7 linked regions of the Homo sapiens genome follow. The protein of the gene in region 1 interacts with the protein of each later gene in a pairwise test. Each region holds a gene or a part of one and is shown in the gene's direction. Other genes may lie near its edges.

What was found.
Region 2: the proteins of NR1H2 (region 1) and SORBS2 interact in a two-hybrid assay, tested with the Homo sapiens proteins (one large-scale study listed by BioGRID and IntAct).
Region 3: the proteins of NR1H2 (region 1) and MED1 interact in a two-hybrid assay, tested with the Homo sapiens proteins (2 studies listed by BioGRID and IntAct, with this or other methods).
Region 4: the proteins of NR1H2 (region 1) and TTC3 interact in a two-hybrid assay, tested with the Homo sapiens proteins (one large-scale study listed by BioGRID and IntAct).
Region 5: the proteins of NR1H2 (region 1) and CRELD2 interact in a two-hybrid assay, tested with the Homo sapiens proteins (one large-scale study listed by IntAct).
Region 6: the proteins of NR1H2 (region 1) and ING3 interact in a two-hybrid assay, tested with the Homo sapiens proteins (one study listed by BioGRID).
Region 7: the proteins of NR1H2 (region 1) and MPP1 interact in a two-hybrid assay, tested with the Homo sapiens proteins (one large-scale study listed by BioGRID and IntAct).

Annotation. Positions count from the first base shown.
Region 1 is NC_000019.10:50,379,070-50,382,208, forward strand, and holds part of NR1H2 (oxysterols receptor LXR-beta), read left to right. Parts: coding exon 1-112; intron 113-710; coding exon 711-810; intron 811-2,896; coding exon 2,897-3,105; intron 3,106-3,139. UniProt on the Homo sapiens protein: Nuclear receptor that exhibits a ligand-dependent transcriptional activation activity. Binds preferentially to double-stranded oligonucleotide direct repeats having the consensus half-site sequence 5'-AGGTCA-3' and 4-nt spacing (DR-4).
Region 2 is NC_000004.12:185,623,021-185,627,443, reverse strand, and holds part of SORBS2 (sorbin and SH3 domain-containing protein 2), read left to right. Parts: intron 1-424; coding exon 425-612; intron 613-2,949; coding exon 2,950-4,423. UniProt on the Homo sapiens protein: Adapter protein that plays a role in the assembling of signaling complexes, being a link between ABL kinases and actin cytoskeleton. Can form complex with ABL1 and CBL, thus promoting ubiquitination and degradation of ABL1.
Region 3 is NC_000017.11:39,420,004-39,424,426, reverse strand, and holds part of MED1 (mediator of RNA polymerase II transcription subunit 1), read left to right. Parts: intron 1-605; coding exon 606-730; intron 731-981; coding exon 982-1,100; intron 1,101-4,423. UniProt on the Homo sapiens protein: Component of the Mediator complex, a coactivator involved in the regulated transcription of nearly all RNA polymerase II-dependent genes.
Region 4 is NC_000021.9:37,194,829-37,199,251, forward strand, and holds part of TTC3 (E3 ubiquitin-protein ligase TTC3), read left to right. Parts: intron 1-846; coding exon 847-1,208; intron 1,209-2,741; coding exon 2,742-2,868; intron 2,869-3,053; coding exon 3,054-3,197; intron 3,198-4,423. UniProt on the Homo sapiens protein: E3 ubiquitin-protein ligase which catalyzes the formation of 'Lys-48'-polyubiquitin chains. Mediates the ubiquitination and subsequent degradation of phosphorylated Akt (AKT1, AKT2 and AKT3) in the nucleus.
Region 5 is NC_000022.11:49,921,634-49,925,758, forward strand, and holds part of CRELD2 (protein disulfide isomerase CRELD2 isoform b precursor), read left to right. Parts: coding exon 1-128; intron 129-237; coding exon of another isoform or gene 238-272; exon of another isoform or gene 273-361; intron 362-660; coding exon of another isoform or gene 661-810; intron 811-978; coding exon 979-1,074; intron 1,075-1,600; coding exon 1,601-1,684; exon of another isoform or gene 1,685-1,827; intron 1,828-2,726; coding exon 2,727-2,822; intron 2,823-3,783; coding exon 3,784-3,924; coding exon of another isoform or gene 3,925-4,037; exon of another isoform or gene 4,038-4,125. UniProt on the Homo sapiens protein: Protein disulfide isomerase. Might play a role in the unfolded protein response. May regulate transport of alpha4-beta2 neuronal acetylcholine receptor.
Region 6 is NC_000007.14:120,970,952-120,975,374, forward strand, and holds part of ING3 (inhibitor of growth protein 3), read left to right. Parts: intron 1-249; exon of another isoform or gene 250-394; intron 395-2,253; coding exon 2,254-2,292; intron 2,293-3,776; coding exon 3,777-3,893; 3' UTR 3,894-4,423. UniProt on the Homo sapiens protein: Component of the NuA4 histone acetyltransferase (HAT) complex which is involved in transcriptional activation of select genes principally by acetylation of nucleosomal histones H4 and H2A.
Region 7 is NC_000023.11:154,795,210-154,799,632, reverse strand, and holds part of MPP1 (55 kDa erythrocyte membrane protein), read left to right. Parts: intron 1-4,423. UniProt on the Homo sapiens protein: Essential regulator of neutrophil polarity. Regulates neutrophil polarization by regulating AKT1 phosphorylation through a mechanism that is independent of PIK3CG activity.

The DNA of each region.
Region 1 (3,139 bases):
GCTGGCCATCATCTCAGTCCAGGAGATCGTGGACTTCGCTAAGCAAGTGCCTGGTTTCCTGCAGCTGGGCCGGGAGGACCAGATCGCCCTCCTGAAGGCATCCACTATCGAGGTAATGGTCCATCTGCCCACAAGGAACCCCAGAGATAGCTCCAGGACAGATGCTGGGAGCAGAGTTAAGGAAGACCAGTGCTTGCCGTTGTAGGATGACATTCCACGGCGAATAGAGTCTTCTATGAGCCAAGGAGAGAAAGGAAAAAGGGTCTGAGGCTGAGAAAATTGAGGATCAGGCTAGAGGCGCTATTGCAGAGAAAAGTTGCCAAAAAGGCTTTTCAGAGGAGTTAGCATTTGAATCAAAGTAGGGATAACATATAAGTATTGAGCACGTGCTGTATGCCAGGCTCTATTCCAAGTGTTGGCATATGGGGCAAAGAACAAAGCAGATCAAACCCCGTGCCCCAAACCTTGTGCTCACCTGGGGAAAGAGTATCCTAAGGAGATGGGGATGCAGCATGTGCGGAAGCCTGAAGTGGAGAAAGAGCTCGGGCTGTCTCACGTGATGGCTGCACGCTGGTGTGGCTGAGAGAACAGGGGGGAAGGGGACAAGGGATAATCCTGGTGAGATTAGACCCCCATTTGGGCCAGGAGGGGAGGGACTAGCAGCTGAAGGGTCACAGGGCTCAAGCTCCCCCTCCCGCTGCCGCCCTTAGATCATGCTGCTAGAGACAGCCAGGCGCTACAACCACGAGACAGAGTGTATCACCTTCTTGAAGGACTTCACCTACAGCAAGGACGACTTCCACCGTGCAGGTAGGGCCCAGGGGAGGCTTCGGGGAGGCTTGGCGCCCCTGCTGGCTGGAAGACCTGGGGCCAACTCATCCCTGTTGGAGTCTCTGTTTCTTTATCTCCAAAGTTGGGGTGAGGGTTGAGCCAAGGTGAGAGTGAGGTAAGAGTGCATGTGCCACGTGTGGTGGTGCACGCCAATAGTCCCAGCCACTCGAGGCTGAGGAGGGCAGATTGCTTGAGGCTATAGTGAGCCGTGATTGTGCGACGGCATTCCAGCCTGGTGACAGAGAAGACCGTGTCTCTATTTTTTAAAAAAAGCATGTATTGAGTGCCGACTCTGTACATTGGGTTGCAGTGGAAGTTGAGATGGGAGGAGCCCTGTTACCACATCAGGCATCTTGGTGGGCATTAGGAAAAGCATTCCCCGCCCCCGCCAAAACGTGGTCTCACCCAAGGGAGGCGGGCTGGAGCTCGGTCCATTGTGAAGCGGGCAGCCTTCTTTACTGTCTAGGGGAGCACTGCTTCCTGCCCTCTGAGAGCGCTAACCTGCGTGGGTGGGCTTCTGGAAGAAGGCCTGGGCAGTGAGAGGCACTGCCTAGGAAAAGGGTGGGAGGAGCATTGCTAGTGCTGCAGAGCATGCACCAGGGCCTCGCTCCCTCATTGTCCCACAATCTCTGGGGGACCTCTCTGTATTTCCCGACATCTGTCCAAACCCCACCCTCTCCCCTTCCTCTTACTCCGGCCCTTTCACCACCCGAGACGGTCCCAGTAACCCTTTTAGTATGAGCTTAGCAGGGCAGGGCTGCAGGGAAGCGTTTCTGGCAGAGGAGATTGGCGATTGCAGAGGCCCTGAGGTTGGGGAGAGCTGGTGGTTTGGAGGAACTACAGGGAGGCCCAGGCAGCTGGAGCACAAGGAGATGGGGTGGAGAGGAGGTCGGGAATCCCACCCTACCCCTTCCCAGCCGCTCCTCTGCCACCACCCTGGAACACTGCCAGGGTCCCCTTGAGGGGCCGCCTGCCTCCACCCCTGCCTGATGGGGCTGCTCACAGCACAGGCAGAAGGGTCCTGTCAGCACTTAAGGCTGCCCACTTCCCTCCTCCGCTCAGAACCCTCCGCGGCTCCCGTCTCACTGGGAGAAGAGCTAGAGTCCTCTCTGTGGCCCACAAAGCCCTTTAGGACCTGGCCTCGCTCACTCTCTGCCCTCAGCTCTCACCCTCTCCCCCTGTTCCAGCCACTCTGGCCTCTTACTGGCACCCATCCAGCATGCTGCAGCCAAGGGCCTGTGTACTTGGAGTTTCCTCTGCCCAGAACTAGGGGGACCAACTGGTCCTAGTTTGCCCAGGACCTTCCCAGTTTTAACACTGAAAGTCTCATGGCCTGGGTAGCCCCCGTCCCAAGTCATGGGAACAGCAGACGTTGGTCACCCTCACAATCCCTCATCTCCTTCGGATTGGTCACTGCTCCAGCGTCACCCAGAGCGCAGCCTTCCCTGCCCGCCTTGTGTAAAATAGAACCATGGCTCAGCAGGGCCCTTCACACTTCTCTGCACTGCCTGGTTCCATTGAACTCACAGCCCTCTGACAGGCTGGGCCTCTTCCTAATGTGTTTGTCTATGACCGGTCCCCTAGGCTCTCAAATGTAAGTGCTGGAGCCTGGCACGTGGCAGGTACTCAGTGACATTTGATGACTGAATGAACAAGTCAGTTTTGGGAATGAGTTTGGGCTTTACCTTGAGCAGTGGAAGCCAGCGCTGGGACCAGCACGATGTGACCTAGGTTTTAAAAGCTTCCCTTTGCCTTTGTGAAGGGGACAAGAATAGGGACTCGGGAAGCTGCAGCCACCGCCCAGGTGGGAAGGGAGGGTGGTGATAGGATAGTAGAAAATACTGAAGAAACATGCACCCTCATTCATTCCTTCACTGGGCAGCATGTGTGGCACACCTACTACATGCCAGCACTCATGGGCACGGGGCACAGGTGGACAGAAATGACAAGAACGCTGTAATTACTGCTGTGTTCCCAGCCCCAGAGACTGTGGGCAGCGCCAGGGTCCAGGATGTGGGGCACGGTTTCGGGCTGAGGGAGTCACGGGCTGCCTCCCGCCCCGCAGGCCTGCAGGTGGAGTTCATCAACCCCATCTTCGAGTTCTCGCGGGCCATGCGGCGGCTGGGCCTGGACGACGCTGAGTACGCCCTGCTCATCGCCATCAACATCTTCTCGGCCGACCGGCCCAACGTGCAGGAGCCGGGCCGCGTGGAGGCGTTGCAGCAGCCCTACGTGGAGGCGCTGCTGTCCTACACGCGCATCAAGAGGCCGCAGGTAGGGCCCCGCAGAGCCTCTGCGCAGAGCCAAC
Region 2 (4,423 bases), on another chromosome or scaffold:
GGGTTTGAGACCAGCCTGGGCAACATAGTGAGACTCTGTCTCTACATAAATAACAAATTTAAAAAAATTAGCCAGGTGAGGTGGCACCCACCTGTGGTCCCAGCTACTCAGGAGGTTGAGGCGGGAGTATCCCTTGAGCCCAGGAGTTTGGGGCTGCAGTGAGCTGTGATTGCACCACTGCGCTTCCAGCCTGGGTGACAGAGCCAGAAGCCATCTCAAAATAAATAATAAGGTCTATTCATTTTTTAAAAGATCCTTCTAGAGAAATCATGTTGAACATCAAGGGATGAGTTCCTAGCAATGCAGTTTTGGGGATAGAGGTTTAGGAGTTACGCCATTGTCACTAGCACGTTCCACCGGTTTTTCTGGTGCACACCCGAACCTCCTCCAGTGCCAATCAAACAGATCTGATTCCTTCTTTCAGTTCTGCAAGCATGGCCAGTGACTTCAGGAAGCGGAGGAAGAGCGAGCCTGCAGTGGGTCCACCACGGGGCTTGGGAGATCAAAGTGCGAGCAGGACTAGCCCAGGCCGAGTGGACCTCCCAGGATCAAGCACCACTCTTACAAAGTCTTTCACTAGCTCTTCTCCTTCTTCCCCATCAAGAGCAAAAGGTGAGCATAGTAAATGAAAACACAACAATTTACTAGTTTACGTTTTAGCCTAGAGCACTGTGTGAAAGCTGGCCCAGTGATAGTGGCATGTGCCAGCTCTCACCTACAGTGTCTGGAATAAAATATAGTTTTAGAACAATAGCCTTCTTCCCACCCAGACTGACTCAAGCTGGCGAGCCACTTAGGTTGCTTAAAGAACTCTGACTAGCATCTGCTAATGCTTTTTTCCCCCAAATAGATCCCTTTCTAAACAAATTGAAAGTATCAAATAATGTATCATCAGGCTACTAAAAGATGTATTTTGTAAACATTGACATATAGTCAAAATTTTCTAATGTTTCTACAACTAGCAAATTAGTCAAATTTATAGGATAAAAATTACAAGCAGCAACAGAGCAAATTGTTGGCTAAAATATACATTGGTTTGGAGGGTTTTAAAAAATTATTCAATTCTAGATTTTAAAAAAATCCGACCTATTAATTTCTTTAGCCATTTGCTGTATATTTTGGGCCACCTTCACATGAACAGTGGAGCATCCACCTCCTGCCATGTAACACAGTGGTCAATTCACAGCAGCTCACAGTCAGGACTAATTGGTCCCAAACCATAATGATATCACTGAGGAATCACCAAGCCTTTTTTTCTGGATGGCCCGTCTCCTCTCTGCAAGTGTAGGGAGCTCACTGTTGAAAGAAGTCACTCCTTCTGGTTTCTGGAAGACCATTTAGTGGTATTCCTTGAGGACAGGAATATTTCTGAGATGGAGAGTGAGGATTGAACCAGCCCCTACAGGGAGCTAGGGCTCTACCAAATGTGGGACCCCACAATCTCCTCTAATATCTTGGGATTGAAAGAGAAGAGAAAGAGATTTTGAAATGTGTAAAGAAATTGAGCTCTAATGTAAGTTTCTATAAAACCAGACCAATTCAGCTACACCTATCAACTATAGTCACTAAAACCATTGCCACATGGTAGTTAAAAGTGGTAGCTGATTTGTGTGCAAAAGGTATTCTGGTCGTGATGATTGGACTCTGAGTAGGTGGATGCCTAGCCCTTTTAAGGCCTTGTAAAGCTGTGATATCAGCTGATGGTTCAGGGCGTGTGAGCCCCATCCATCACATCTTTCCTCTGAGGAGCAGAGATGCCTTATCAGATTCAACTCACTTATTCAAATGAATATCTTAAGGTAACAAGTAGGTCATGAAATGCCATTGACCTATTATTCTTGGATACTAGCCAAAAGTTAAAAGGGTTCTGATAAATGTAGATATTTGTTTCATCACAGGGAATGTTAAATCAACTTCCTTTCCCAGACAGTACAGATCTACCTAATGTGCTTATCTACTTTTAAAGAATTTAGAGAACATTGTAAGGTATAAGTATTGAATAGAGATATTTTCCTCCATTAGATTTTATTTCTAGGAAGAAAATGTCCTATTAGATATAATTTGGCTCCTCATTTATTAGTTGACTCAGCAAAGCAAAAGAACATTTCCATAGCTATTCAAAATTGAGGCCAAATGTAGATCTCTATTATCAAATTGCAAATGATTTTTCAAAGAACTCTTCCGAGAAAAAAAGCATGGTATATGCACCTCTGATGAAAGTTTTGCATTATATTCAGTTTTCCTATGAGAATTTTGTACCTAATAAAAGGTTAAAGGTAGAGCAATTTAAGAGGTAAATTCGTTTGTTTAAAGAGCTTTAGCTATTTTTTTCTAGAAAAATGTTAGCAGCAATAGTTCACAGCATTTTGATTTTGCAATTTTGGAGAATACTTTGCCTTATAGCTTTTAAAATCTAAAACCCACAAAAAATTATTTGATATAGTCATGAGAGTATTAATTCGATGTAAATGTATAAACCCTTCTTCACCTATGTATCATTACGAATCAAATGAGGCTCAAATTCCGGCCCTATTAAATTGCGTAAGGGTATAACACTTTTGACACTAATTGTTAAACCTTCACTACCAGATCATGCTATCAGCTGAAGCAGCACTATTGTGTTTTGGCAAACAATATTGTCAGAAAGGTGTATGAATTATGCAGTAGGAGTAGGTGTATTTGCTTACGTCGGTTGCTTCTTATACACAGTTTTGTCAACTCTCTCTGCAAAGCTACATTCACTGAAAAAGTATTAGCTCGCTTTAGAATTAGACCTTCTTCTCTAGAGTTGAAGCTCCATGTGTGAACAATCAGCACCTAGATTAAAACACACTAACTGCTTTCTCCTTGCTATGCTGTCTGATGCTTTACTGACATGCTCTCCTCTCTTTGTGAACCTTTTAACTTCTCCAAATGTCTCTCTTCTACCACGCTGCTCTGGATTAAAAGGTGGGGATGATAGCAAAATATGTCCATCCCTTTGCAGTTACTCAGGGCTCAACGGCAACCCCTCCAGTGAGTTAGATTACTGTAGCACTTACAGACAGCACTTGGATGTCCCTCGGGACTCACCAAGAGCCATTAGTTTCAAGAACGGCTGGCAAATGGCCCGGCAAAACGCAGAAATCTGGAGCAGCACGGAAGAAACCGTCTCTCCCAAAATCAAATCCCGGAGCTGTGACGATCTCCTAAACGACGACTGCGATAGCTTCCCGGACCCGAAAGTCAAGTCGGAAAGCATGGGCTCCCTGTTATGTGAGGAGGACTCCAAGGAGAGCTGCCCCATGGCGTGGGGGTCCCCCTACGTCCCGGAGGTTCGCAGTAACGGCAGATCAAGGATCAGACACAGGTCAGCCCGCAACGCCCCGGGGTTCCTGAAGATGTACAAGAAAATGCACCGCATCAACCGCAAGGACCTGATGAACTCCGAGGTGATCTGCTCCGTGAAGTCCAGGATTCTGCAGTACGAGAGCGAGCAGCAGCACAAGGACCTGCTGCGCGCCTGGAGCCAGTGCTCCACGGAGGAGGTGCCCCGGGACATGGTGCCCACACGCATCTCCGAATTCGAAAAGCTGATCCAGAAGTCCAAATCCATGCCAAATTTAGGGGATGACATGCTGTCTCCCGTAACCCTAGAACCACCGCAAAATGGCCTATGTCCCAAGAGGCGGTTTTCCATTGAGTATTTGCTGGAGGAAGAAAATCAAAGCGGCCCCCCCGCTCGGGGCCGGCGAGGCTGCCAGTCTAACGCCCTGGTGCCCATTCACATTGAAGTCACCAGCGATGAGCAGCCCCGAGCACACGTGGAGTTTTCCGACAGCGACCAGGACGGGGTTGTGTCCGACCACAGTGACTACATTCACCTAGAGGGGTCATCCTTCTGCAGTGAAAGTGACTTTGATCACTTTTCCTTCACATCCTCCGAAAGCTTTTACGGATCCAGCCACCACCACCACCATCACCACCACCACCACCACCGCCACCTCATCAGCTCCTGCAAAGGCAGGTGCCCGGCCTCCTACACTCGATTTACCACAATGTTAAAACACGAAAGAGCCAGACACGAAAACACCGAGGAGCCCAGAAGGCAAGAAATGGACCCTGGCCTTTCTAAACTTGCTTTTCTAGTCAGTCCTGTGCCTTTCCGGAGGAAAAAAAATTCGGCTCCTAAGAAACAGACTGAAAAGGCAAAATGTAAAGCATCTGTGTTTGAGGCTCTGGACTCTGCCCTTAAAGACATCTGTGACCAAATTAAAGCTGAAAAGAAAAGGGGGAGCTTGCCGGACAACAGCATCCTGCACCGCCTCATCAGTGAGCTGCTGCCAGATGTTCCCGAGAGGAACTCATCCCTGAGAGCGCTGAGGAGGAGCCCCCTGCACCAGCCTCTCCACCCACTGCCTCCCGATGGTGCTATTCATTGTCC
Region 3 (4,423 bases), on another chromosome or scaffold:
GGGAAAGAAGAGAACTGTGCTAATTCCTCTGGCTTAATGAGTGCCCCCTTTTATCTTACGTTCATTAGTTACATTGGAGTAATAACTGGAGAACATGCCTCAGGATAAATGTTTGATTAAATTCTACAGTGTTAACCAATAGCATGTCTGGGAATTGGGGGTAGGAAGTTTCACAGAGTGAGCTTTTGAGAGTTTGTACTTATGTGTCTGTGTGATACATACATGTTTAAGAATAGGTGTTTGTGGCCAGGCATGGTGGCTCACGCCTGTAATCCCAGCACTTTGGGAGGCTGAGGCAAGTGGAACACCTGAGGTCAGGAGTTCAAGACCAGCCTGGCCAACATGGTGAAACCCCATCTCTACTAACAATACAAAAATTAGCCGGGCGTGGTGGCGGGCACCTGTAGTCCCAGCTACTCACGAAGCTGAGATAGGAGAATCCCTTGAACCCGGGAGGCAGAGGTTGCAGTGAGCCAAGATCACGCCATTGCACTCTAGCCTGGGCATTAAGAGGGAAAATCTGTCTCAAAAAAAAAAAAGGTGTTTGGGTTTTTCATTTTTATATCAAGTCAGAATCCAACCCTTCCACCCTCTTTTTTTTGAAGGACCCCTTCCTTCTCCTCAATCACCAGTGCCAACAGTGTTGATCTTCCTGCCTGTTTCTTCTTGAAATTTCCCCAGCCAATCCCAGTATCTAGAGCATTTGTTCAGAAACTGCAGAACTGCACAGGTGAGTTTTGAGCATCAGGATCTAGTACTTGTTATAAATGTGAAAAAGAAACTTCAAAGTCAGGTTATCATGACGTCTTTCAGTCTTACATGCCTCATTGAAGTATTACTGGTAAAGATGTTATAGTGCTTTGTACTAGTAAATGCTTAGTAAGTACTCTTTTGGGTGAATGAATGTAGATATCAAGGGGAAACTGAGCTGTCAGTGTTTTCATCTTAACATGATCATTATATTGATTCTTGTTTTTCCAGGAATTCCATTGTTTGAAACTCAACCAACTTATGCACCCCTGTATGAACTGATCACTCAGTTTGAGCTATCAAAGGACCCTGACCCCATACCTTTGAATCACAACATGAGATTTTATGCTGTAAGTAAAGCCCTAGGGAGCTAGAATGTTGTAGGTTATGTTTGGACCCAAGATCATAATCTTCCTTTATAGCATTATTGAGGTCAGATAAGTTTCTTCAAGACTGCTGGATCATGTCCTATTTCTTTAGTAAGGCAGGAAATTACAGAAATCTCAGAAATGGGCTGGGCGCGGTGGCTCACACCTGTAATCCCCGCACTTTAGGAGGCCAAGGCAGGCGGATCGTGAGGTCAGGAGTTCGAGACCAGCCTGGCCAACATAGGGAAACCCTGTCTCTACTAAAAATACAAAAAATTAGCCGTGTGTGGTGGCGGGTGCCTGTAATCCCAGCTACTCGGGAGGCTGAGGGAGGAGAATGGCTTGAATCTGGGAGGCAGAGGTTGCAGTGAGACAAGATTGTGCCATTGTGCTCCAGCCTGGGTGACAGAGCGAGACTCTGTCTCAAAAAAAAAAAAAAAAAAAAGAAATCTCGGAAATGTATTGAAGTAAAAGGGCATGAGCTTCCATTAGGAAACAACAATGTACAGTTCTTTGTTGAAATTTTGGGTGATTGGCCAGGTGCAGTGGCTCACACCTGTAATCCCAGGAATTTGGGAGGCCAAGGCGGGTGGTCACTAGAGATCAGGAGTTTGAGACCAGCCTGGATAACATGGTGAAACCCCGTCTCTACTAAAAATATAAAAATTAGCTGGGTGTGGTGGAACATGCCTGTAATCCCAGCTACTTGGGAGGCTGAGGCAGGAGAATCACTTAACCCGGGAGGCAGAGGTTGCAGTGAGCCAAGATTGCGCCACTGCACTCCAGCCTGGGCAACAAGAGCGAAATTCCGTCTCAAAAAAAAAAAAAAAAAAAAAAAACGAGGCTGGGCGTGGTGTTTCACATGTCTAATCCCAGCAGCACTTTGGGAGGCCGAGGCAGGTGGATCACGAGGTCAAGAGATCGAGAGCATCCTGGCCAACAGGGTGAAACCCCATCTCTACTAAAAAAATACAAAAATTAGCTGGGTGTGGTGTCATGCACCTGTAGTCCCAGCTACTCGGGAGGCTGAGGCAGGAGAATTGCTTGAACCCGGGAGACGAAGGTTGCAGTGAGCCAAGATCGCACCACTGCGCTTCAGCCTGGCAACAGAGCAAGACTCCGTCTCAAAAAAATAAAAAAGAAAAAGAAATTTTGGGTGATAGACTTTTTTTTTTTTTTTTGAGACGGAGTCTTGCTGTGTCGCCCAGGCTGGAGTGCAGTGGTGAGATCTCAGCTCACTGCAAACTCCACCTCCCGGGTTCATGCCATTCTCCTGCCTCAGCCTCCTGAGTAGCTGGGACTACAGGCGCCTGCCACCATGCCTGGCTAATTTTTTGTATTTTTAGTAGAGACGGGATTTCACCATGTTAGCCAGGATGGTCTCGATCTCCTGACCTCGTGATCCGCCCGCCTCGGCCTCCCAAAGTGCTAGGATTGCAGGCGTGAGCCACCTTGCCTGGCGGGGTGACAGACTCTTAATGGTATTTTGAACTTTTAGAATATCATAATTAGGTGTTATAAATTCTTACTGTTTAATTCTTTCAAGTGCCATGAGCTTAGAATCTGGAAAGATCCTGAAAGTACTTACAGAGAGGAAAATGCTGGAAGCAGTAATTAAGAGGCTGGGCACAGTGACTCACACCTGTAATCCCAGCACTTTGGGAGGCCAAGGCAAGGCAGATCACTTGAGCTCAGGAGTTCAATACCAGCCTGGGCAACGTGGCAAAATCCTCTCTTTTTTATTTTTTTATTTTTTGAGATGGAGTCTAGCTAGCTCTGTTGCCAGGCTGGAGTGCAGTGGCGCGATCTCGGCTCACTGCAACCTCCGCCTCCCAGGTTCAAGTGATTCTCCTGCCTCAGCCTCCTGAGTAGCTGGGACTGTAGGTGTGCACCACCATGCCCAGATAATTTTTGTATTTTTAGTAGAGACGGGGTTTTACCATGTTGGCCAGATTGGTCTTTATCTCTTGACCTTGAGATCCACCCTACTCCGCCTCCCAAAGTGCTGGGATTACAGGCGCAAGCCACCTTGCCTGTCCTTTTCTTTTCTTTTTTCTTTTTTTTTTTTTTGCTCTTGGTGCCCAGGCTGGAGTGCAGTGGCACGATCTCGGCTGACTGCAACCTCTGCCTCCCAGGTTCAAGCGATTCTTCTGCCTCATCCTCCGGCAAAATCCTGTCTCTACAAAAAAAAAATACAAAAATTAGGCTGATGTGGCCGGGAGCGGTGGCTCACGCCTGTAATCCTAGCACTTTGGGAGGCCGAGGCGGGCAGATCATGAGGTCAGGAGATCGAGACCATCCTGGCCAACATGGTGAAACCCCGTCACTACTAAAAAACACAAAAAATTAGCTGGGTGTGGTGGCGGGCGCCTGTAGTCCCAGCTACTTGGGAGGCTGAGGCAGGAGAATGGCGTGAACCCGGGAGGTGGAGCTTGCAGCGAGCAGAGATCGTGCCACTGCACTCCAGCCTGAGCTACAAGAGCAAGACTCTGTCTCAAAAAAAAAAAAAAAAAAAAATAGGCACATGTGGTTGTTCATGCCTGTAGTCTCAGCTGCTCGGGAAGCTGAGGGGCTTCATCCTGGGAGGTAGAGATTGCAATGAGCCAAGATTGCACAATTGTACTCCATCCTGGGTAATGGGAGTGAAACCCTGTCTCAAAAGTAATAATAATAATAATAAGGGAACGTTCCAAAACCTCATCTGGACTTGTATTTATCTGAATCTTTTACAATAGACTAAAGTAGTGGTTACCAAATTCTGGCTGCATTATTATTATATAGGTGTTTTATTAAAAATAGAGAATTTGCAGCCGGGCGTGGTTGTTTATTCCTGTAATCCCAGCACTTTGGGAGGCCCAGGTGGGTGGATCACGAAGTCAGGAGATGGAGACAATCCTGGCTAACACAGTGAAACACTGTCTCTACTAAAAATACAAAAAAAATTAGCCGGGCGTGGTGGCGGGTGCCTATAGTCGCAGCTACTCAGGAGGCTGAGGCAGGAGAATGGCATGAACTCGGGAGGCGGAGCTTGCAGTGAGCCGAGATCGCACCACTGCACTCCAGCCTGGGCAACAGAGGGAGACTCTGTCTCAAAAAAAAAAAAAAAAAAAAGAGATTTTGCATTTATGGTTTAGGAACCTCTTTAATACAGATTTCTGAGGTAGTTTTTATGTTAGCTAGGTTAGGAAATCACTAGCATAGTGCATTTACTAAAAAGACATCTTTTCAGCCTAATTAGTAATTGATTGACATTTATAATATCAGCTGATGAAAACATTCACTGTGGAGACTTTTCTGCACTTTTT
Region 4 (4,423 bases), on another chromosome or scaffold:
ATGTTGGGGAGGGGCTTGAGTGATTTCCATTTGTTCGATTATCAGTTTATTGCCATCAGCCTGTCCTGGATGGGGCATGGCAGTGGGGGTGGAGGGAAGAGAACAGATGTGAGAGGTGATTGGGGGTACATTTACAGGTGCCATGCTGCTCAGGAGACCAGGCCCCATGTGTCCACGTGGGAGTTGAGGGTGAGTCTTGGGCTTCCGTCCAGGAGTACTAGGGGAAGAGCAGGACTGGGGAGGCTGCCTGAGGCTGGTTTCCAAAACACTGACTTTGAGTTGCCTTGGAATCACCCAAGTGGATTTGCAGATTTGGATCTCAGGAAAATATTCTAGACTGCAAACTTTTAAAAAGATTTGGCCTCAGGCAGCTGCATGGGGAGGAGTGTCAGCACTGCAGGCGTGGACGGAGGCCTGAGAGCTGCCAGGAGAGCTGGCAGGGAAGAGGAGGCGGCCCCCTGGGATGGAGACAGCTCTGGGGAGTGTGGTGGCCATGATGTTCCATCTGTCAGCTACATGGTTTAGCTCAGAAGGGGAAAAGTGTAACCAGGTAGAGGCTGAAGGAGGGCCAGTAGGCAGGCAAAATGGTCTCATCTTACAGAGAAAATAGTGACTTATAGAGATAATTATTTAGAAGTCTGAGCCCTCCTACTCTTGTTCTAATAACTAACAAGTTATTGTCAAGAATTCTTTTAAAACGAAAATATTTAATTCATGGTATTCAGGTTTCCTGTGCACGGAGCCTCTGCGCTGCGTTACTGTATTTATTCATCGGCCTTTGTCCTTGGGCGTTTCATCCTTCAAGGGAAGCCCTAAGTGATCCATGGTGTGGTGTGTTCCTCACAGGTTCATCCCGAGTTACTCCCTGAGTCTTCAGGCGACGATGGCCAAGGGCTTGTGACTTCTGCAAGCGACGTGACTGGAAACCACGCAGCACTTCACAGGGATCCTAGTGTGTTCTCTGCTGGTGATTCCCCAGGGGAGGCTCCTTCTGCGCTGTTGCCAGGGCCACCCCCTGGTCAGCCTGAAGCCACTCAGCTGACAGGGCCAAAACGGGCTGGCCAGGCAGCTCTGTCAGAACGAAGCCCTGTGGCTGATCGGAAGCAGCCTGTTCCTCCAGGACGTGCTGCGCGTTCAAGCCAGTCTCCAAAAAAGCCGTTCAATAGTATTATTGAGCACCTGTCAGTGGTATTCCCATGTTACAACAGGTATGAACAGAAAATGTCTGTGACTGTGTTTAATACTTTATCGAACTGAGGTTTCCTGATTAGATAAAATCATGGCTAGTTAGGTGTTAACATGAAAAGGGTTGCATAATTGTTTTGCTCAGAAAGACAGTTGCTACATTTCTTTCTTTTTGTAAATATAGAGATAAGTATTTTCAAATAAATTGGTGGGTTTTTTCTTTCTTTTTTTTTTTTTTTTTGAGACAGAGTCTCACTCTGTTGCCTAGGCTGGAGTGCTGTGGCACAGTCTCGGCTCCCTGCAACCTCTCCCTCCCGAGTTCAAGCGATTCTCCTGCCTCAGCCTCCTGAGAAGCTGGGATTATAGGCATGCATGACTAAGCCTGGCTAATTTTTGTATTTTTAGTACAGGTGGGGTTTCACCATGTTGGCCAGGCTGGTCTCGAACTTCTGACCTCAAGTGATTCACCCGCCTTGGCCTCCCAAAGTGCTGGGGTTACAGGCATGAGACGCCACACCCAGCCTCAAATAAATTTTTTAATGTGCATATGTAAATTGAAAACATTGAGCACTGGGTAATATTCATCAGAACCCATGACAATTTGCTAAGATTTTGATGAGACCAATAGCACTGTCTAAAACTAGTGTTATAGTATCAATAAATGAACGCAAAACAATAATTTTGCATCATTTGGGGGGACAAAATTATATATAGCAAAGAAGGCAGCAGCAACTTAAACCTTGTTATATAAGACCTCTGATTTGTTAGAGTGTGAGGTTGAAGACTGGATGGAATTCCATAGTGAATGGGGCATGTGGACATGTTAACAAGGGGTCCTTGTGAATGTGGGAAAAAGCTGCCCTTACCTGAGTGAGCAAGAGCTGTAAATAGAGTTGGGATGATGGCAGGCTCTTCAGTAGCGTTTCTGCCTCCACCTCTGGTTTCCGCTGTTCAGGTTGTTACGAGGGGGACAGAGTTGCCTCTTGTCTCAGCTGTGAAAGATGATGAGGTAGAGGCGGTGTCTCTGAAGTGCAGCTCGGATCAAAGGACTCTATGCTCAGGAATGACCTTTGGCATGTGCCCTATTATTTCAGTTTCTGAGACAGTGTTAATTACAGGCTTCAAAATTGAAATTTGTAAACAATGGGGCAGTTAAAATATGATTAGCCAGCAGGCATGGTGGCTCACGCCAGGCCGAGGCAGGTGGATCACCTGAGGTCAGGAGTTCGGGACCAGCCTGACCAACATGGTGAAACCCCATCTCTTCTTAAAAAAAAATGGCAAAACTCGCTTGAACCTGAGAGGCAGAGGTTGCAGTGAGCAGGGATCGCGCCACTGCCCTCCAGCCTGGGCAACAGAGTGAGACACTGTCTCAAAAAAAAAAAAAAAGTTATGCTTTTTAGATAGTTATTGTTGTTATCAGTGGTCTTCAGATTAATTTTATGTGCATTTGTCTTTGTTTCTTTGGGTTGGGCTGTTGGATTAATATTGGCATGTAATATTTCTTAGCAGTAGAGAACTTTCTGTTGTCATTCATCACTCACTCTCCCTTTCAGCACTGAGCTTGCTGGTTTTATTAAAAAAGTGCGAAGCAAAAACAAGAACTCACTCTCAGGATTGAGTATTGATGAAATTGTCCAAAGAGTGACAGAACACATTCTAGATGAACAGAAAAAGAAAAAGGTATTTTATCTAGATGTTCCAGTTTATCCTTATTTATTTATAAAATATGAGAATTGTTAAAAAAAAAAAAAAGCTTCAAACCAAAACCTAGAGAGCAATGTACTAAAGACAGAAGATGGTCAAGTTGTTGGATAACTGGTTGCTTCCCTCTTGTCCCCTCCCCGCCACCCCTGTTATTTTCGCAGCCAAACCCAGGAAAGGACAAGAGGACTTATGAGCCCAGCTCTGCCACCCCCGTGACCAGGTCCTCCCAGGGCTCACCCTCGGTGGTTGTTGCACCATCACCCAAAACCAAGGGGCAGAAAGCAGAAGATGTCCCTGTGAGGATTGTATGTATAACTGTATAGTTTTGTTTTTTAATGAAAAACAAGAAGCAAACAAAATTTTTAATCCATGATTTAGCCCCATTCATTTCTAGACCTAATTTATTTGATCCCAACATTAGAAACTGAATTTCAATGTACTTGAATGTGTCCAGTTAGAGCAATCAGTGAATGGCCGAGGTCATGGTGTCTGCTGTGATACGTTTGGGCCCAGCATGGAGAGAAGCCCCTGCACATGAGTGACAAGGGCTCTGACCATCGTGGGGGATCTGAGCCTTCTCTCTCTTGCCCTTGTTTTGCTGCAGATGGTCAAGTACATGAACTTTGTACATCCAGTGTGGTATTTTGAACAGTTGGGGAAATCATTTTTGAATAATTTTCTTCTGTGTAACCATGGCTTTGGAATTACACAGATGTGTCAATGTGTCGTGTGGCCACACCCACCCCAAGATAGACCGTGATTGCCTGGAGAAGAGGGTTCTGTTTTTGCTTCATGATGGATGTTTGTAGTAACGAAGATATAAAAGCTGACTTACTGAAACTTCACCAGATTGTATGAGAAAGAAAAATATGTGTTCAAACTGGGACCTAATTTGATAACCATAGTTTGTTAAAATTAAAAGTATTAATTTTCAAATTACAAAGTATTACATACAATAGAAAATACAAATAAAAAGGGCATTTAAAAACCCGCCCTGTAATCAGTATTACCACTTTGGTATATATTTTTCTAAACTCTTGAATGCATGGATATGTGAATTAGTCAAAACTGAATACGCTAGTCACACTTTGTATGTTCTCTGAGGGGCTGAATGTTTTGGTTGTTTTCCATTTTTTTTTTTATTGTGGTTGTCCTTTTTTTCTTTTAGTTAGAAATATACTGTGCCCATCTTTTCTAGGAAATAGAAAACGGTCAAGTTAAGTGTATATTTTTTTCAAACTAAACCTGGCTCCGAGCTTTGCACTGGGCATTGGAGAGGCCTTCAATGGCTCTTCCCCGGTCTGGCACTTCCTCTTCTTCCCTGACCCTCGAGTCATGGGCAGCAGTGGAGGGGCATGAACCCTCCTTCTGCAGCATCTGCCCCATCTCCTCCTGGGCCGAGTCATGCCTTGGGAGAGACAGCAAAACCCTGAACAGCAGTTCAAGGTCTTCTCAGCCTTGGGGTGATGCCTCCAGTGCCACTCCCTGAACTTGATCCCACTGCCAGGGCTGCCTGCATTCGCCCACTCCC
Region 5 (4,125 bases), on another chromosome or scaffold:
CGGAGATGGGAGCAGACAGGGCGACGGGTCCTGCCGGTGCCACATGGGGTACCAGGGCCCGCTGTGCACTGACTGCATGGACGGCTACTTCAGCTCGCTCCGGAACGAGACCCACAGCATCTGCACAGGTACGGGCTACGCCTGGGCTGGCCCCGGGGTTGAGGCGGGATGACAAGAGCCCCTTGCTGGAGCTGCCTGCCTAGATGGGAACAGGGGCCTGTTGATCTTTAACCCCAGATGTCCAAGGAAGCTTCGAGGGCCCAGAAGGATGAATGAAAACATCAGAGGATAGAGGCAGAGGTTGTCGGGCACTTCCTGTCCCGTAACAGCCCTCAGAAGGGAGAAGCTACTCACCTTTCTCTCTAGTTCAAGGTCCACCCCGACCTTGAGTTGTGATGGGCCATGCAGTGCACAGGTCCTGGAGGTGCCGTGTGGGCCCCGCACCGGCCCAGAGAGCAGCATCTGTCAAATCCCTGCAGGCCGTTATGAGTGGCATCTTTCCAAAGGACGTTTTCTCCCTGGTTGTCACTGATATGTAGGAAAACTCTGAGTGTCTCGGACGTGAGTGTGTGGTTGGCCGGCAGCCCCTAGGCTATTCTGGGCAGACAGACCCGTGGATCGATAGTCAGGACCGGCCTCTCCGATTCTTACGCCCCTCAGCAGTCAGGACCGGCCTCTCCGATTCTTACCCGCCTTGCTGTCTGTCTCTTGGATGTTGGCGTGGCGTGGGCCACGCATGGATCCGTGGCCGGAACACGCACACCCAGCCAGGCTACAGCTCCAGAGTATGGATAGCTGCCTTCTCTCCAGGTTATTAAAAATTCCTTGGAGTCCTGGTTTGCTGAGAATTTTAAATTCATGGGCACTGAAAATCCCGTGTTGCTTTTCCCTCTTAAATTCCTCACTTTTAAACGAGCCTTGTCCCCAAGCTGGTACCTGAGAGTGGGGTTTGTACCCAGGCCCGCCTTTGCCTTCCAGCCTGTGACGAGTCCTGCAAGACGTGCTCGGGCCTGACCAACAGAGACTGCGGCGAGTGTGAAGTGGGCTGGGTGCTGGACGAGGGCGCCTGTGTGGGTGAGGAGCGGCCCGGGGGTGGAGGAGGGCGCCTGCGTGAGGCGTGGGGGGTGTGAGATGGGGGCGTAAGGCGTGGGGGGTGTGAGGCATGGGGGCGGGAGGCAGGGGGGCGTGAAGTGTGGGGGCGTGAGGTGGGGGCGTGAGGTGTGGGGCTTGGGGTGTGGGGGGCGTGAGGTGTGGGGGAGCATGAGGTGGGGCGTGAGGTGTGGGGGCGTGAGGTGGGGGCGTGAGGTGTGGGGGCACTCACTGTCTCACTCTCACACAATGTGTCGCCATCCTCATGGGGCGCCTGCCCCGGTTGGCACTGAGTGTCTAAGGACAGGGCCTGGCCATCGCCTCATCCCCTCCCCTGCCGCGTGGGGCCTCCGAGGATGGCATTTGAGATGATTCCTCCTCAGGGGCTGCCCTCCTCCCTGCCCTTCCCCAGCCGGCCCTGGCCACGGGCTGTGTCAGGCCATGATCGGTCCTTCCCCGCTCCCTGGCCGGGCTGTCCTGGGCCGCTCACAGCTGTGCCGCTCTGTTCCAGATGTGGACGAGTGTGCGGCCGAGCCGCCTCCCTGCAGCGCTGCGCAGTTCTGTAAGAACGCCAACGGCTCCTACACGTGCGAAGGTGGGCCAGGCGGGCGGGTCTGCACTCCGGGGCCTGCCGGGTTTCGTTGCTGCCTTTGTCAACATTCATTTATGGCTTCTTAGTGTCACTTCCATACATCCTGCCTGCCCTGAGAACACTTAGTGTGGCAAAGTAAGTCATAGGTATTTGCTGCAGGAAAATCAGAAAATTCAAGTCAGATGAAAAGAAAACAGTTAAAAACCCAGGAACTCCCTGGAGAGCGCACCCTGCTGGTGCCTCCACTGCTCGTGCCCCCCCAGCGCCCCCGCAACGTGCCCTGCGTGACTTTCCGCAGCGCCTGTCGGGTGTTTTCCACTCAGCAGCTTGTTGCGAACGTCTCTGCGTCCTGTGGTTTCTCTGTCACGCTAATGATTTTGGAGCCATTATTTCATACTTTTACAACAATGTCTGTTGCTGGACGTTTACGTCATAACAGTTTTTCAACTTATAAACTGTGAACACTTGAAGGTAAACTTTTCACATTCCTTATGATTTTCTGTGGATTAATTTCCAAATCGCTCAGTCAAGGGAATGTGTCTTTTAGAGCCATAGTGCCCCAGAAAAGTTGTGCTGATCCCCAGTCCCAGCAGCAGGGAGGAGGCCGCCTCTGCCCCGTGTGTGTGACAGCCCCAGGCAGTTTTCACTGTTGGGAGTGCAGACAGTGGGTCCCTCAGTGAGCCACTAATACTGGAAGCCATGCGAGAGGCTCTGGTTATTCTTAGGAAGCTCCTGGCAGGCTGGCAAACCAATGGTCACCGAGCTGGAGGTGGGTTTGTTTCTAGAATCTCTGTAGCACCCAGTTTCTCCCAAAGAGTTCCAAGCCAGGTGGTCTGCACCATGGCTCTCCGGGAGCACCTGCTGCACAGCAGGACGCGAGTCTGTGCTTTTGCCGGGAGACAGAGACAGATCGTTATAAAGTCACTTGGTGATGAATGAGGAGAAAACCCAAATCCTGGCGGCACCGGTGCCTTGTGCATGTCGGGGTCTGACGGGCACTGGTGCCTTGTGCATGTCGGGGTCTGACGCTGGCTCCCTGTTGCAGAGTGTGACTCCAGCTGTGTGGGCTGCACAGGGGAAGGCCCAGGAAACTGTAAAGAGTGTATCTCTGGCTACGCGAGGGAGCACGGACAGTGTGCAGGTCAGTGACGGGGTCTGTGCTGGACGCTGGTGGACCCTTCCCAAGTGACCATGATGTGAATGGCCCCAGCAGGTACTGCCAGGGATGGGAAGCAGTTGAGACCCGTCCTGCAGACGTGGCTCCCCCAGGGTCACTGTGCACTCGCCCTGAGGTCCACGTGAGACACAGAAGCAGTGGGGGTGGGGGACGGGCTCTGCATGGCCGACCCTGGTGTGGATGGCGCTGCTGCACCAGCCTCTCGCCGGTGGCCTCGTTCCCCAGGTCCACCGCCTCTGCTCTCCCTCCAGCTCCTGGGTGGCGATTGCCCCGAGGCTTAAGTCCAGGCCTGCCATGGTTGTGGGCTGCCTGGGTGAGCCTGGGCGTGGATGGAACCCGGTGGAGAAAGTGGGTTTCCTGGGCAGGCGCCATGGTTCATGCCTGTAATCCAGCACTTTGGGAGGCTGAGGCGGGGGGATCACGAGGTCAGGAGATCGAGACCATCCTGGCTAACACGGTGAAACCCCATCTCTACTAAAAATACAAAAAATTAGTCGGGCGTGGTGGCGGGCGCCTGTAGTCCCAGCTACTCGGGGGGCTGAGGCAGCAGAATGGCGTGAACCCGGGAGGCGGAGCTTGCAGTGAGAGGAGATCGCGCCACCGCACTCCAGCCTGGGCGACAGAGCGAGACTCCGCCTCAAAAAAAAAAAAAAAAGGAAAAGAAAGTGGGCTTCCTGGGCGCATGCTGGCCTTCCGGCCCCACCTGGAGGTCTCTTCTCTGCATTTTCTACCAGTTGAGGGCCCAACTTGGAGACGTGAAATTCTTCCCTCTCGAAGCCTTTCCTGATCTTTGCTCCTTTCTGTAACGTGACGTTTGTCATCGTTGTGCTTTCTTTATGTGAATGAATCTGAATGAATGAATTTCATAATCCGCTGCGCGTCTGCTGAGCAAAGTAATTATTAAAACGGAGTCTTTTCATTTTAGATGTGGACGAGTGCTCACTAGCAGAAAAAACCTGTGTGAGGAAAAACGAAAACTGCTACAATACTCCAGGGAGCTACGTCTGTGTGTGTCCTGACGGCTTCGAAGAAACGGAAGATGCCTGTGTGCCGCCGGCAGAGGCTGGTGAGTGGCACGGCTGCCCTCCACACAGGCTGCCCTCCCCTGGGCCGCAGGGCTTGCACGTAGACTGGCTGCTTGGTCTGAAATCCACACAGATGGTGGCCTTGAGATGGTGAGAGGGGGATTCCCGGAAGACAGGTGCATGACATCTCTGTGTGGGCACGCTTGCGCGAGAGGTACTGGCTTCCTGAGGATGAAGCCCCA
Region 6 (4,423 bases), on another chromosome or scaffold:
GCACTTTTTTAAACTCACTTAAAATACCTTTGCTTTATTTGTATACTTTTCTCCCCCTTCTTACAAAAGTGACATTTGCTGTAAATACTGAGTATAAAGAAAAATGTTACCCATAATCCTAGCCCTCAGATACAACCTGTAACTAAACATTTTTGGTATACCACTACCATATACCTCATGTGCACATTGGCTGCCTTAATAAAATACAACAGACTGGGTAGCTTAAACAACAGAAAATAATTTTCTCACAGGTATGAAGGCTGGGAAGTCCAAGATCAAGGTGTCCACTGACTCAGTTCTGGAGGAGGGCTCCCTTCCTAGATGGAGACTGCTGCCTTCTCACCGGGTCCTCACATGATAGAGGGAGAAAGAGTGTGCTCTGGTGTCTTTTCTTATAAGGGCACCAGCCTTGTCAGAGTAGGACCCCACTCTATGACCTCATTTAACCTTTACCACCTCCTCACAGGCCCTGTTTCCAATTATAGTCACGTTGGGGGTTAGGGCTTCAACATATGATTTTGAGACATAAGCTTGCATTTCATAACACGTGTCTATGCAGATTTGCACATGCATGTGTGTATAAGTTTGTCAGTAGGAACCACAGTGTATACTTTCTTGTTACTGGCTTTTTTCTCTAAATCAGGTATACCGAACATGATTTTTCTTTAAGATCATATTTTTAATTTTCACATAGTTATCTCTTATGCCATCCAGTGTAGTTTTCTTAACCAATACCTAGCTATAGATTATATTAGTGGTTTTAATTTGTTTGAAATTAGGGATAATATTACGATAGGCATTTTTTAAATGTAATCCATTTTATACATCTAATTTCTTGGATAATCTTTTAGAAATAAAATTAGGCTGTAAATATTTGACAGACACCAAAATATATTTTCTAGAAATTTATTACCAAAAATTAATAAACATACCGGTTTACTAAACCCTGTCCAACACTGGATATTATTTTCTTTTAAAAACTAAGTACCAATTTGGTAGTTTTATATTATGATTGTTTTAAATACACTAGTATTATTGAAGTTGGACATTTTTTGACCATTTTTGTTTTTTACATTATGAATCGACTCCTAATGGTGTCGGCTGATTTTTCTATTGTTTTTGTTATGTACTCTAAATATTTGCTTGATTTAGTTTTTTAAAAATAATTCTAAAATTTTAATTTTATGTAGTTATGACTGTTAATTTTTTTTTATGAAGCAAGCCATGGATTATATACTTAGAAGGGCTTTCTCTTTGGCTCTTCTTTCTACAAAAAATTGTCTTGTATAATATTTTCTCCTAGTTTTTATATGGTTTTGTCTAGTTCTTTGCATGCTTCAGTTTCTTCACATTTAAGACTTAGTCTATCAGCAGATTATTGTGTCTAACAGTATGAGTTGCCAGTCTGATTTTTAAAAATTTTAACAATTTGTTAGCTGTTCCACTATCACCCGATAAACATTTTTCAGTACAAATGATAGAAAAGCATATCCTGTATCCTGACAACAAAAGTAGATTACTTGCAAAAGAACAAAATCAGACTGAACCTAGAGTTTTCCTCTGTAACACTAAAAAACTAGAAGGTGATGGAATATGTCTGTAGAGCTTTCAGGGAAAAATTAAGAGCCCCCAAAAACTTGATATTCAGAGAAGTTATTTCTCTGCATAGGACCATGTAAATATATTTTCACTCATGCAGAGAATCAGAAGATATGCCATCTAGTTAATCCTGTCTGAAAAATTATTCAATCCACTGAGAACTTCAGTGAACTCAAGAATTAGCAAGTTATGCCCTAAAGTGCTGGTGATGAAGAGCAAAAGAAAAATGAGAAAGGACATAAAATAGATAAGTTTAGAAGTTTCAAGGAAGGAGACTATTAATTGCAAAAATATAAATGACCTAATGTGACCCAAGAAGTAAAAACTTTCAGTAAGTAAATAATCAAGAAAGGAACTTAAAATTTTTACAATAAGAACTACCCAGAAAGATGACTCCTTCATCCGGGTGATTTATATGTCAAGTTCTTCCAGACTTCTGAAGGGCAGATAATTCCTGTGCATTTCTTCCCACCCTTGCCCCACCCTGCCCAAAAGAGTATTTCAGGAAAAAATTATTATACCTTGATTCTCAATGTAATTGTATATTCAGTGTATTTCCCTTTATTTTCCAGCAGTATCATACATAAACAGTTAATTGGTATCTAGGTGTTTGTTACATAGTCATAATAAAGACATTTAATTTTTTTTAACTAGGTATCTTATGGTGAGATGGTGGGATGTGATAACCAAGATGTAAGTATTACATTTTTCTATTTAGGAATGAAAAAAATCACAGGTTGTTATTACTTGAATATTTGTCTTATTTGCTGTATGGTTTGGTCTAAGAAAACAGGTTTGCAGGTATATTAGTTATATTATGCTAATGCTAGAATATTCCTCTTCAAAATAGGGTAGTGTCCCTTAATGTGTTCCCTATTTTAATTTTTAAAGCTAATTTTATGGTTTTATGTGCAGATTGTCTCAGAAGTGTTATGTTGTATGAAAATTATAAATACCCTCCTTTCCCTTTACTAAAAAATACTGTGTTTACTAGAATCCAGTTCATTTATCACATTGAAGAAATGGAATTTTAAAACAATTCATTCTTTCAGGCTGCACCGTGCTAAAGTGAAGGGTGGGATAATTGAGGATCTAATGTGAGATTATCTTCCTCTCATGAGTATAATATTTTTTCCTGTACTCTGCAGGTGTCAGCTGATAAGAGCCACCCCTGATCTAAAAAGTAAAGGAAATTTGAAAGGAAGGAATTCTTGGTTTTTAGGAGACTTAATTTTAGTTAGAGATACGTTTTTTATTCAATACTGAGAATATTGTTGTCTAGTAATTTTGACTCCCTCCTTATTTAGTAGTGACAGGATCCTAAGATTAACAAGAGTTTTAAATTTGTAAAACAATCTGAAGATTGAGGGAGCTGGCTAGGTGCATTAAAATGTGTACTTTTCCTAGACCTGATAGGGTTACAGCAACATGCTCACGTAGATTGGGACAGAGCCTCCTTCTGTTTCCCTGTCTAGAATCCCTTGTAGGCTGTTTGTGGTTGTTGCAAAAACAATATTGCCCAACCATTTCAAGAACATCACTGTAAACTCTTCTGGGGCAGTTAGTGAAAATGATGAATGAGATTTCTATGAGTACCAGCATCATGCTTCTCTGATTCTTCTTATTCCCAGTTGTGCTCTTCTGAGTGCTAAGACTTTCATGAAAGAGTTTTCTGCTTAATATGTTTCAAAGAGGAATAATTTTTCTCTACATTTCAAGGAATAGAAACACCCACGTAGGAAATGCAGGGCATAAGACATAAATTAATGTCTTTAATTACAATCAGCTTATTCTACTTTATGAGACAGCAAATAAGGCTGACTATTAAATAAAATCTTAAGTTATATTTACCTTCTACATAGAAGATTCATCCCACTTCTTTTTGCCCTTGAAAGCTGAAAACTAGTGAATTTTCATTCATTAGGATGAGGGGACTAGATTACATGGACCTCAGGATTCTTGAAGATGCATAATTTTTCTGTGCCTTCATTTCCTCATTCCTGAAGCTTATCATTTAGTCTAAATGATGTCTAAATAATCTAGATCTAAAAATTCTGATGTCACACATCTAATTATTGTTAAATTAAATGGATTATTCAGTCTCCTGAGCATATTTTAATATACTCTCTTGTCTTCAGAAGTACTGAAAACTTGTTTTTTGCAATTTTGCTTTCTAGTGCCCTATAGAATGGTTCCATTATGGCTGCGTTGGATTGACAGAGGCACCAAAAGGCAAATGGTACTGTCCACAGTGCACTGCTGCAATGAAGAGAAGAGGCAGCAGACACAAATAAAGGTGGTCCTTTTGTTTGATGAAGAAATAAACTTCAGCTGAAGATTTTATATAGGACTTTAAAAAGAAGAGAAGAGAAAGAAGAAACAATGCATTTCCAGGCAACCACTTAAAGGATTTACATAGACAATCCTATAAGATCTTGAACTTGAATTTTATGGGTTGTATTTTAATAATGTAAGTAAATTATTTATGCACTCCTGGTGTGCTATGAATATTATTCCAGTTAGCCTTGGATTATTTCAGTGGCCAACATATGCAGACATTTGTACTCCTCAACCATTTTCTCAAAGTAATGGGCATTCTATGATTTAGACTTCAAGGAATTCCAATGATGAAGATTTTAAGGAAAGTATTTTATATTCAACAGGTATATTCTGCTGCATGTACTGTACTCCAGAGCTGTTATGTAACACTGTATATAAATGGTTGCAAAAAAAAAAAAAAGTCAGTGCTTCTAAAAAGAATTTAAGATAATGGTTTTTAAAATGCCTTTATAATAAGCTTTGTTTCTTTGTGAAACTAATTCAG
Region 7 (4,423 bases), on another chromosome or scaffold:
CCTATATCCACTACAGATGATGGTGGCTGCTTTGAGAGGATGATGTGGAGGTTGTGAACTGAACTCTGAGAAATAGAATCTAGTACCTTTGACCTTTATTATTTGTTCAGCATTACTCATGTCACTGACAGTATATGTCTGCATATCTTTTCTCCTATGATGTGTCAGTAATGAGGAGACATGGGGACTAGTTGAAGGAGTTCTGTAAGATGAGGTCACAGAGAGCTGACCCTCCCTTTCTGAGAGTCTCATGAAGACAGGGTGGCTCAGGGACAAGTTCACGGTGGAGAAAATTGTGCTTTGCTTTTGGAAAACTTACTGTTGCAAGTGTGTACTTTAGTTACCACGTTGGAAGTTTCCGTTTTTCTTAGTCATCATTTGCAACTTCTGGGTAAGCGTGATAGTGACTCTTAGTCATCGTAAAGAGGAACGTCTTGTTGGATAAGCACATCTGAAAGACCAACCTTTGGGATGGCAACTCTTGAACTTTTCCAGCTGGAATGGTTCTGCCTCTAGTAAGCTTTGCTGAGTCTTTAATTTAAAGGCTGACATGTAAAAAGCAATCACTGTAATAAAGCTGGATAAGAAGAATATGACATAGCTAGGCATGGTGGCTCACACCTGTAATCCCAGCACTTTGGGAGGCCGAGGCGGGCGGATCACCTGAGGTTGGGAGTTCAAGACCAGCCTGGCCAATGCGGAGAAACCCCATCTCTACAAAAAATACAAAATTAGCCGGGCGTGGTGGTGCATGCCTGTAATCTCAGCTACTCGGGAGGCTGAGGCAGGAGAATCGCTTGAATCCAGGAGGCGGAAGTTGTGGTGAGCCGAGATCGTGCCATTGCACTCCAGCCTGGGCAATAAGAGTGAAAGTCTGTCTCAAAAAAATAAAATAAATAAAATAAAATAAAATTCCTCTAGCCACCACCACAATGAAGATAGAGAACTGTTCCATCCCCACAAAGGCCTCTCTCCTGCTGTCGCTTTATAGTCACACTTGTCTTCCTCCCTACCCCATCCCCGCAACTCCTTGCAGTCACTACTCTGTTCAATGTCTCTATGATTTTGTCATTTTAGGAATGTTATATAAGTGGAATCATATAGTATGTGATGTTTTGAAATAGATTAGCTTTCTTTCAGTCAGGATAATGCCTTTGAGCTGGATCCCAAGTTGTTTTAGTATCAATAGTGTTTTTTGTTTTAATTGCTGAGAAGTGTTCCATGGTATGGATGTACCACGCTTTAACTGTTCACCTGTATTTTGGTTCTTTATAGATTTTGGCTGTTATAAATAAAGCTGTTATGAGCATTCATGTACAGGCTTTTGAGTGAACATAAATTTCCATTTCTCTAGGTGAATATCCAGGAGTGTCATCCCTGGGTTTTATGGTAGTTGTGTGTTTGGTTTTTTAATAAAGTGTTCAACTATTTTCTATGGAAGCCATATCACTTACATTCCCACCAGCAATGTATGAGATGCCCAATTTTCCCTCAGCTTCACCAGTTATGAGTATTGTCACTATTTTTTTATTTCAGCTATTCTGATAGATGTGTAGTGATATATCATTGTTGTTTTAATTTGCATTTCTCCCTGATGGCTAATGATGTTGAATATCTTTTTATATCCTCATTTGCCATCTTTATATATCCTCTTTGGTGAAATATCTGTTCATGTTTTTTGCCCATTTTCTAATTAGATTGTTCGTTTTTACTGTTGAGTATTGAGCACTCTCTTTTTATATTCTATATACCAGTCTTTTATTGGATATGTGGTTTGTAAATGTTTCTCCCGGTCTGTAGCTTGTATTTTCACAATCTTCATGTGGGCTTTCACAGAACAAGAGTTTTTCATTTTGATGAGGTCCAATTTACCAATTTTTCCTTTAATGGATTCTGCTTTTGATGTCATGTATAGGAACTTTTTGCCTAGCTCTAGATCCTGACAAGTTTCTTCTATTTTTTTCAAATATATTTTCTAGTTTTGCACTTTACATGTAAGTCCATATCCATTTTAGAAGGTAAGGTTCAGGTCAGCATTTCCCTTTTTGGTGATGAGTTTCCAATTGCTGCAGCACCATTGAGTTGCTTTTGCATCTTTGTTAAAAATCAACTGGGCATATCTCTGTGGGTCTGTTTCTGGGTTCCCTATCCTGTTCCCTTGATCTGCATGTCTATACCACATAGTCTTTACTGAGACTATACTACAGTAAGTTTTGAAACTGTGCAGACTGAGTCTTCCTACTCTCTTGTTTTTCAAAATTATTTTAGCTTTTCATGGGTCTGTACCTTTCCATCATGTATACGTGCTTTTAGTGTAACCTACATGGACCAAGTGAGTGAAAGCACTCGTGTATGAGAAAAATAACACCCCAGATATAGGGTGATCGGTAGCCAACACTGGCTTCTGGCTGAGGCATCAGTAAGGAATGTGAGAGCTGGGGCCACCTGGAGAGCGATGCCAGATCTTCTGATACTTTAAAAAGAAGTTGGAGTCCCCTGATTTTTACTAAACAAAACAGAGACATGTGGTCGAAATAAAACAGTTTGCAACTTCTGCTTTGGAGATTTTTTCTTTTCTTTTTCCAGAGATAGAGTCTCGCTCTGTTGCCCAGGCTAGAGTACAGTGGTGCTATCATAGCTCACTGCAGCCTTGACCTCCTGGGCTCAAATGATCCTCCTGCCTCAGCCTCACGAGTAGCTAGGACTACAGGCACATGCCACCACACCTGGCTTGGAACTTTATGTAATGCATTCACTCCTTCATTTATTGTCCAACCAATGCAGATCCTACTTCTTGACTCCCCACTTTGTAACAGAACAAGATTACAGGCCTCTTCCTTTCGATTTTTCTCCCCTTTTTACCTGCCAACTTCCTATCATGGACATGTGTACCTTAATATTGTCATGGTGCTGATATTTACAGTCTGTTATTTGTTTCATGATTTGTTTCTAAGTGAGTTCTAAAAAGTAAAAATCAATAAGTGGTTTTTAGATTATTATAACTGGTTGCCAATCCAACATCCCACTTCTCACTTACATATCCCTGATCTTGTTTGGGATGGCAAGATGCTCAACTAAACTAATCTTCCCAGCCTCTTTGGCTGGTGCCTCCTGTATGCACATTCTAGGCTCTAGCTGTCTCAACTCTCCTTGGTCATTCCTCCATCTGCTTTCTGTCTTCTGGAAAGCTATTGAAATCTTGGCCGGGCATGGTGGCTCATGCCTGTAATCCCAGCAGATTTGGGAGGCCGAGGCAGGTGGATCACTTGCGGTCAGGAGTTCCAGACCAGTCTGGCCAACATGGTAAAACCCCGTCTCTACTAAAAATACAAAAATTAGCCAGGTGTGGTGGCGCTTGCCTGTAATCCCAGCTACTCGGGAGGCTGAGGCAGGAGAATCGCTTGAACCCAGGAGGCGGAGGTTGCAGTGAGCCGAGATCACGCCACTGCACTCTAGACTGGGTGACAGAGTGAGACTCTTTCTCAAAAAAAGAAAAAAGAAAAGAAAAGAAAAGGAAAAAAAACAAAGAGAAAGAAATCCTTCAACCCTGATGACTTTTTGTGGGTTTCTATTTCCCTCCTCCCGTTTACTCTTACTTAAACAGGGTCAAGGTTGAGGCAGGACAAGATCCACACAAGTACTTGAACCTGAGTCCCAATCACTTTGGAAAATTCTTTTACTAATTTATTTTATTAAAGTAACACAAGCACATAATACATAATTTAAAAGGTATAACTTGATACACAGTGAAAACAATTTCCTTCTCACCCCATCTTATAGCCACCCAGTTCCTCTCCCTAGAAGCAACCACTGTTTCTTATGTCTCCTTCCAGACATAGTTTATGTATTTTCATTTATTTTATTTTTTGAGACAGGGTCTCACTCTGTCACCCAGGCTAGAGTGCAGTGGTGTAATCACAACTCACTGCAGCCTTGACCTCCCGGGCTCAAGCAATCCTTCTGCCTCAGCTTCCCGAGTAGCTAGGATTACAGGTGCACGCCACCATGCCCGGCTAATTTTTTTATTTTTTGTAGAGACGAGGTTTTACTATGTTGCCTAGGCTGGTCTCGAACCCCTGACCTCAGGTGATCCTCCCACCTCAGCCTCCCAAAGTGCTGGGATTACAGGTGTGAGCCACTGAACCTGGCCAGTTTATGGATTTTTAAGCAAATATGAATATAATCATTCTTTCACTGTTTATGATGAAGCTAGTATACCCTTCATCACATTATTATTATTTTTTGCTTAACAATAAATCTTCAAGATCACCCTCAGAACCTCCTTTTCCTACCTACATGGTGTATCCCGGGTATCATAAGTCAATTTTTTAAATATAAGCCTATCTTAGACAATTTTGTTATAACAGCAATGCCATATGACTTGGTGTCATGTGAGTTTTTTGAAGTTCTAGTTGCTAGAGAA